2 linked regions of the Homo sapiens genome follow. The protein of the gene in region 1 interacts with the protein of each later gene in a biochemical or structural test. Each region holds a gene or a part of one and is shown on either strand. Other genes may lie near its edges.

The links.
Region 2: the proteins of PHLDB2 (region 1) and FLNC form a complex in vitro, tested with the Homo sapiens proteins (one study listed by BioGRID).

Annotation. Positions count from the first base shown.
Region 1 is NC_000003.12:111,862,216-111,866,032, forward strand, and holds part of PHLDB2 (pleckstrin homology-like domain family B member 2), read left to right. Parts: intron 1-3,817. UniProt on the Homo sapiens protein: Seems to be involved in the assembly of the postsynaptic apparatus. May play a role in acetyl-choline receptor (AChR) aggregation in the postsynaptic membrane.
Region 2 is NC_000007.14:128,850,589-128,854,405, forward strand, and holds part of FLNC (filamin-C), read left to right. Parts: intron 1-214; coding exon 215-355; intron 356-643; coding exon 644-772; intron 773-812; exon of another isoform or gene 813-866; coding exon 867-1,040; intron 1,041-2,002; coding exon 2,003-2,164; intron 2,165-2,239; coding exon 2,240-2,443; intron 2,444-2,696; exon of another isoform or gene 2,697-2,809; intron 2,810-2,880; coding exon 2,881-3,033; intron 3,034-3,126; coding exon 3,127-3,249; intron 3,250-3,385; coding exon 3,386-3,628; intron 3,629-3,817.

The sequences.
Region 1 (3,817 bases):
CAGTGCTATGGTGCTGTGGATGGCTTAGAGTGACAGTGGCTTTGTACATTTTCTAGGTGGAGTACCTGTGCCTTATGAATCTATCTGTAAAGTCTTGGTGTACCAATTGTTGATTGTGTAAATGTCACTCTTTTGAAACAAAAACACCTAAGTGATGTGCTTTATCTTAAAGTCCTGACATACATTAGAGCTGTGGTTTTCACTGGGAGAGGGGTTTTGGCCCCCAGAGGATACTGGCAACGTATTTTTGGTTGTAGCAACTGACAGGAGGAGAGTGCTACTGCCATATAGTGGGTAGAGGCCTGGGATGCGGTTAAGCACCCTGCCATGCACGGGACACAAAAACAATTATGCAGCCCCAAACCCTGCACTACAGTATTGCCTGGGGGAGTAGGTTAACAAGATTAGGCATCTTAATCTGATTTGGATCCTCAAGAAACTTGTTTAACTGTGTTAAACAAGAGACCCTTATCATAGAAGCCGTTTTGTATGCAGCAGATTCTTTTGTCCTTGCCATTTAGAGTCTTAATATACCATAGAGGTCGAGGAACTTGTGTTCATTGACAACTTTGAGATGGATTAAAGTCATGGGATTTGGGAGCATTAGAGCACAAGGGAGCCTCAGAGATCACTTAATTTCTACCCCTTCTTTTTATAGATGTAAAAAACTGAGACACTCAGAGCTTTAGGACTCATAAGGTCTCAAGCGAGCTAAGGGCGGGCAGACAAAGTTCTAGGTACAACCCAGGAGTTAAAAATTTTAAAATAGAGATTCAGGCAAATGGGAACAAAAAACAAAACACACTGGACCTGACCTTGTGTAAAAGTTTCAAAGCACCATTCCCTGTGAGAAAATAAATAAATGCTTCGATGGGGGAGGGGTGGCATTAGCCATAGAGACTGTGGGGCACGTGCCTGGGTGCCCCAGTCCCAGAAAGGGGTAATTCCATTATATGACCTGTGACACTCCACTTCTGATGCCTGTACTGTCCTTTCCATGGCAAAGTAGGCAACAGATGGTTCCACAGACATAGCAGATGTTGCTTTTGAATCCAGGTACAAAACAGAACATTTGAGATTTTCTGTTCCTCCCTGCCTTATCGGTTAAGAGTAGAGTACATGAATGGATAGGGCTGGCTTGGACAGAAGGGAGAATTACAGAGGCCTCCTGAGTATGGAAGAAAAAAAGACACCTGGCATATATGGAAATGAGCAAGTGTTGGGGAAATTGTGGGAGAAATTCATAAGCTGATGAGGGGATATCTAATATAAATTCAATTGCATAGAACTAGGATTAAGAATCAGAAGACAATTCAAGCTTAGCTATTCTTTCAGCATGTAGAACAAAATAACTATGGGGGTAAAAGGAACCTTAGAAATCCTCTTATCTGAATCTTTTCCCTCCAACCAACTAACTGGGTTAGATAGCGGCAGAATCTGCAAGCCTCCTGTTCTATTGTACTTTCTCCTGCACCCACAGTCTCTACCATTCCATGTGTTTACCTAATGGGAAAGAAAATGATAGTAAAGAAAGTTATTGTTAATTACTTGGGAGAGTTTAAAAAGCATGGTATTTGTGAATGGCTGTTTATAGAAAGGAGTTACCTTAATGAGTTTATGATTATCAGAAAAGTTGTACACCATAGCCTGATTAATTACAAACATGTATACTCTCCTGTTTACATTGCTATGGTTAGCCATTAGGCTCATGATTATAGATTCTAGTTCTGGGTGCCAAGCTGTCCTCCTGTGGTAGTTATTTTATCTAATACTCAAATCTGACAGGTTCTGGCCATATAGGAAAGTTTTTAGTATGCCTTTGGTGGGAGACATAAAACCTCTGAAAAGTGTTAAGATAGTTTCTTATCATTTTGACAACTAGCCAAAGGGTGCACCTCAAAGCCAAGTACATAGTGATATATTTAGAAATGACTCAAGAGTGATAGCCCTTTTAAGGGATCTGCCCCCCCGCAGGTACTATGCAAAAGGGGTGTAGCAGTCTTTTCATTATCATCTTTCATCTGGCCATTCTTGTTACTGTTTTTCAGATGATGGGAGAGGAGACAGGAGTAGTTTTTAAAAAAATAACTGTTGGCTAGAAATATTTATTGGGATTTGATTAAAGTAACTTGTCTTTTAAAAATAAATGAAACCAAAATTGTTAGCTCAGATTTTCAAATCCCTTCAAAGTAAACATTTAGCAAGGCAGAACTTCTCTCTATGTTCATCCAGGAATTTGAACCTTCTGGGAGTTAATTTGCTTACAGTTGTTTTCATGACGCTTAAGGATGTTTCTTAGACATTGCAGAAAAGGAGCTTTGTGCTGTATCTGCTTTAAAGGCAAGATAGTTGTCTATAGCAGCTAGTGGTCAATAAGAGAAACCCAAGTGTAAAAATCATTTTACTGTTGTGTGGGAAACTAGAGGTTGTAGGTAATTGCTATACAAAGAAACAGATTAATAAGATATAGAGTAACAGGGTTAGTCAAAAAGTTTTTGAGAGGATTTTTACAGGAGATACTTGTTTAGTGTGTTAGGTTGATTTTATTAGATGAAGTGCTTTTCCTTACTTTACAAAGTAAAAGGAAAGAAAATATTGTGTATGCCACTGTTTATCGATGGCCTTAAGCCAGGTCAGCTTTTTCTGAGACTTGCTGCTAATTCAGTGGGAATTGGTGTTGATCATCTTAGAATGTTTTGTTTGCACATTGCATGTGACTGCCCTAGATGGCAGTATGTTCATGGAACTAGCCTATGAAATAGCAAAAAAGTTAAAGATTACAAGAGTTTTCCAAGATTTCTTTCTTGACCACCCTACTGCTAAAACAAGGAAAGATAAAGGCAAAAGAAACCCAGCTCCTACATTCTTTTGACCAGTGCAGACCCAGTGTGAATAGTGCCGCACAGCCAAGAGATATTCAGAGGGGATTGAGAAGTGATGTCTGGCTGCCTCACTGCTTACGTCATTGCAGAAGTAGCTTTTCAAAAACAGCTTAAGATTTATTAAGGAAACTGCAAGCCATGGGAATGCAGACAAAACCTTTCTTATACATCATGCTCAATCAAATACCCATATTATATTACATTACCATAACTCTGACCAGGCCTTTTTCCCACTATGTTATGCTAAAACAATTTACCATGCCTTTGGAATGTCATGGGCAACAGTCCGGTGAAATCTTTTCCCAATTAGGTAGCTGCCACCTTATCACTAAAACTATTTCTGTTCTGTGGTCATTTCCATTTCCTGCATTATGTAATGAGCACTCCTGTGTTATTTAACCAGTATCTGTGGGAGTCCAGAAAGTTGGAGCAGAAAGAACATGTAGTTCACTCTCACCATGTTGAGTATGGAGAAACTCCTGTTGAAACAAAATGAAGACAGGCGAATTGACGTGCTCCAGATCTTAGTTCTGTTAGCAGAACCAGAACTAAGATGGATCTTCTGACTTGCTTCCCTGGCAGCCTATCCAGTGTTCTTTCTACTAGATTGGCCACTGTAATAAAAATAACATCCTAACGTAACCATTTCCTTTATTAGATCTTTTGGCCAGAGTTATTAAAAAAAAAGCATTGATTAAAATTAAATTAAACTTAGTCAATTGTTTATCTTGACTTGTTCAAGTTATTTCCCTTCTTTCAAGCAGTAAGTGGTCAAAAGGTAGATAGCATGGAAGGGAAAAATTAAGTGTTTTATAATACTCATTCTGCACAATCAGCTGCTAAGTAATGAAGATATGATATTATCATAATTATTATTTTTACTTTACAATATTTTAGAAACCTACCCCACCCACTCATTTTTTTTTTTTTTTTTT
Region 2 (3,817 bases), on another chromosome or scaffold:
AGCTCTACCCAGGGTCACACAGCAAGTTGGGCAGAGCCAGAACTCAGGTGCAAGCCATCTGTCCCCAGTTCAGGGCTCAGGCCACTGCCACAGGCTGTCTCTTGATGCCTGGCTTCTCGGGTGGCAGCAGAAGCACTCAGGACCAGGCCTGGGACAGCAGGGAGGTTGCAGTGGGGGAAACCAGGGTCTCCACGTAACTGTGTCTGCCCTGCAGGAGAGGTGCGGATGCCCTCGGGGAAGACGGCACGGCCCAACATCACCGACAACAAGGACGGCACCATCACGGTGAGGTATGCACCCACTGAGAAAGGCCTGCACCAGATGGGGATCAAGTATGACGGCAACCACATCCCTGGTGAGTTAGGGGCTGGGCTGGGCTGGGGCTTGGGTGAGAGGAGCAGGCCGTAGCTTCAGTCCTGCCTTCCCTCTTTCAACAAATATTTATTGAGCACCCGCTGTGTGCAGACACCAGGCGAGGCCCCAGGGAGGCTTATACCCTGGTGGGAAGCAGACCTCCACCAGCTGGGTCCCTACGGCACAGACGGAGGGGGTTGGCAGGGAGGCTGCTGGAAGGTGCTGGGGCCAAGGTGGGCTCAGATAATCCCTGATGCTGACCCAGCCCCCTTTTTCTCTGTATCCCCAGGGAGCCCCTTACAGTTCTATGTGGATGCCATCAACAGCCGCCATGTCAGTGCCTATGGGCCAGGCCTGAGCCATGGCATGGTCAACAAGCCAGCCACCTTCACTATTGTCACCAAAGATGCTGGAGAAGGTGAGGGAGCTGCAGGTCGCAGGCTGGGGTGGAGACTCACCAGGGGCAGGGGTGAGGGCAGGACCTCTGATCTTGGCCACACCTCCACCTACAGGGGGTCTGTCACTGGCCGTGGAGGGCCCATCCAAGGCAGAGATCACCTGTAAGGACAACAAGGATGGCACCTGCACCGTGTCCTATCTGCCGACTGCGCCTGGAGACTACAGCATCATCGTGCGCTTCGATGACAAGCACATCCCGGGGAGCCCCTTCACAGCCAAGATCACAGGTGAGGCGGGTGTATGGGCATGTACAGCCCATGAGGCACACACACCGCATACAGTGCACTCATGTGCAAGCCCAGCCCGTTCAAGTCACTCGTGACATTAGGGCAGAGGCCCTTCAAGGTGTGAGGGGTCATATTTTGATAAATGTAAAAACACTCTGTTCTCCACGGCAGCTAAGAAGCAGTCAGCCACTCCTTGTGCCTGAAAACACATTGCCTCATTTAGTCTTTGAAGTCATTTGTTTTGTTTTTGTTTTTGAGAGGGAGTCTTGCTCTGTCACCCAGGCTGGAGTACAGTGGCACGATCTCGGCTCACTGCAACCTCCGCCTCCCGGGTTCATGCCATTCTTCTGCCTCAGCCTCCCAAGTAGCTGGGACTCCAGGCGCCCGCCACCATGCCTGGCTATTTTTTGTATTTTTAGTAGAGACAGGGTTTCACCGTGTTAGCCAGGATGGTCTCGATCTCCTGACCTTGTGATCCACCTGCCTCGGCCTCCCAAAGTGCTGGGATTACAGGTGTGAGCCACCACGCCCAGCATGAAGTCACTCTTAAGAAGTTAGGGCACGGATAATCCTTTTGATAGATAAGGAACCCCTGTCCCAGAGAGGCCAAGCAACATGATTACAGCCACACAGCGAGGAAGGGGTCTGGGCGGTCCAGTCTAGTGTTTTGTTATCACAACATCATGTGACTCAGGGTTAAAATGCAGGAGGTTTCCTTTAGGGATTTAGCCCACAAGGACTGAGGCAGCCACAGTGGAATTGGGGTACAGGCCCCTCTTAGTCTCTGGCAGCTCACATGTGAGTGCAGACTGCACTTTCCAGGCCTTGGGCCTCCGTGCACCTGGGAGTGGCCCCCCGTGTCTGTTGAGTCCAGGGGGGGCTGCTCAGGAGGGTTCCTGAGCCCTGTGAGGGCAGGGCCTGCCTGGAGTCATAGCAGCCTGATGCCCCAACTCCCCCACCAGGTGATGACTCCATGAGGACCTCACAGCTGAATGTGGGCACCTCCACGGACGTGTCACTGAAGATCACCGAGAGTGATCTGAGCCAGCTGACCGCCAGCATCCGTGCCCCCTCGGGCAACGAGGAGCCCTGCCTGCTGAAGCGCCTGCCCAACCGGCACATTGGTGAGCGTGGGGCCTCACGGGGACCTCAGGGGTGGGGGCCCACAGGATGCTCTGCCTAACACCCACTTTCCACAGGGATCTCCTTCACCCCCAAGGAGGTCGGGGAGCACGTGGTGAGCGTGCGCAAGAGTGGCAAGCATGTCACCAACAGCCCCTTCAAGATCCTGGTGGGGCCATCTGAGATCGGGGACGCCAGCAAGGTGCGGGTCTGGGGCAAGGGGCTTTCCGAGGGACACACATTCCAGGTGGCAGAGTTCATCGTGGACACTCGCAATGCAGGTACCTCCTGCCCCAGAGAGCCCCCATTCCAGCGGGTGCCTCCCACAGGCACTTGTCCTCGTCCTGCCCAGCACCCCCTTGGCCGCACTCTCTCCTCCCTGAAACTTCCTGACCAGTCTGCGTCAGGATTCGCATTCTGGGGCCCCTTGCGGGAAAGTGAATGGCCCCGCATCAGTTCTCTCCCTTTTAAGAGAAAGCTCAGCTGTCCTGAGTTTCTGTCCCTCCCTTGCTCACTGGAATCCAAGAGGCTTACCTTAGGGAATTTTCCAGACCGCCTGTCCCGTGGTGCCCCCGCTCCTCCCACTGAGCCATTTTTGTTAGTGGTCACTACACACATCGGTGCCCATTCTGGGTGGAGCCTGCAGTCTGGGGAGAGGAAAGCATTGTGGCTTGGCCAGCCTAGGACTGAGGGAGATGTGTTCCTTGCTTTCCCCCAGGTTATGGGGGCTTGGGGCTGAGTATTGAAGGCCCAAGCAAGGTGGACATCAACTGTGAGGACATGGAGGACGGGACATGCAAAGTCACCTACTGCCCCACCGAGCCCGGCACCTACATCATCAACATCAAGTTTGCTGACAAGCACGTGCCTGGTAAGGCTCTGGGCAGAGGTCGGTGGCGAGAGACAGGGAGGCCAGGAGGCTGGGGCTCTGAGGTTCCTGACCCACCCTTTGTCCCCACTTCAGGAAGCCCCTTCACTGTGAAGGTGACCGGCGAGGGCCGCATGAAGGAGAGCATCACCCGGCGGAGACAGGCACCTTCCATCGCCACCATCGGCAGCACCTGTGACCTCAACCTCAAGATCCCAGGTAGAAGCCTGGAGGACCCTGGGTGGGGCGGGTGGTGGGAGAGGGCTGGCCCGGGCCAGAGCCCACCTGTCGGGCCTCCACCCTGCTTCCTCACCCCTCGCTTCCCTCCCTCACCCTGGCTCCCTTGACCACACAGGAAACTGGTTCCAGATGGTGTCTGCCCAGGAGCGCCTGACACGCACCTTCACACGCAGCAGCCACACCTACACCCGCACGGAGCGCACGGAGATCAGCAAGACGCGGGGCGGGGAGACAAAGCGCGAGGTGCGGGTGGAGGAGTCCACCCAGGTCGGCGGGGACCCCTTCCCTGCTGTGTTTGGGGACTTCCTGGGCCGGGAGCGCCTGGGATCCTTCGGCAGCATCACCCGGCAGCAGGAGGGTGAGCACCGCACACTGGGCCGGCCGGGTCCTCACGGCGGGATGGGAGGGTGCTGCGGACCAGGCTTGATGCTGGCAGACTGGCCCCGAAGGCCAGGGCAGGTCTGAGCAGAGGAGGAGGTTTAACTGATGGGGGAGGGAAGGGCCAGGGCTAGGAGGAATCCCAGTGTTGCCCTGACATCCCCCAAAC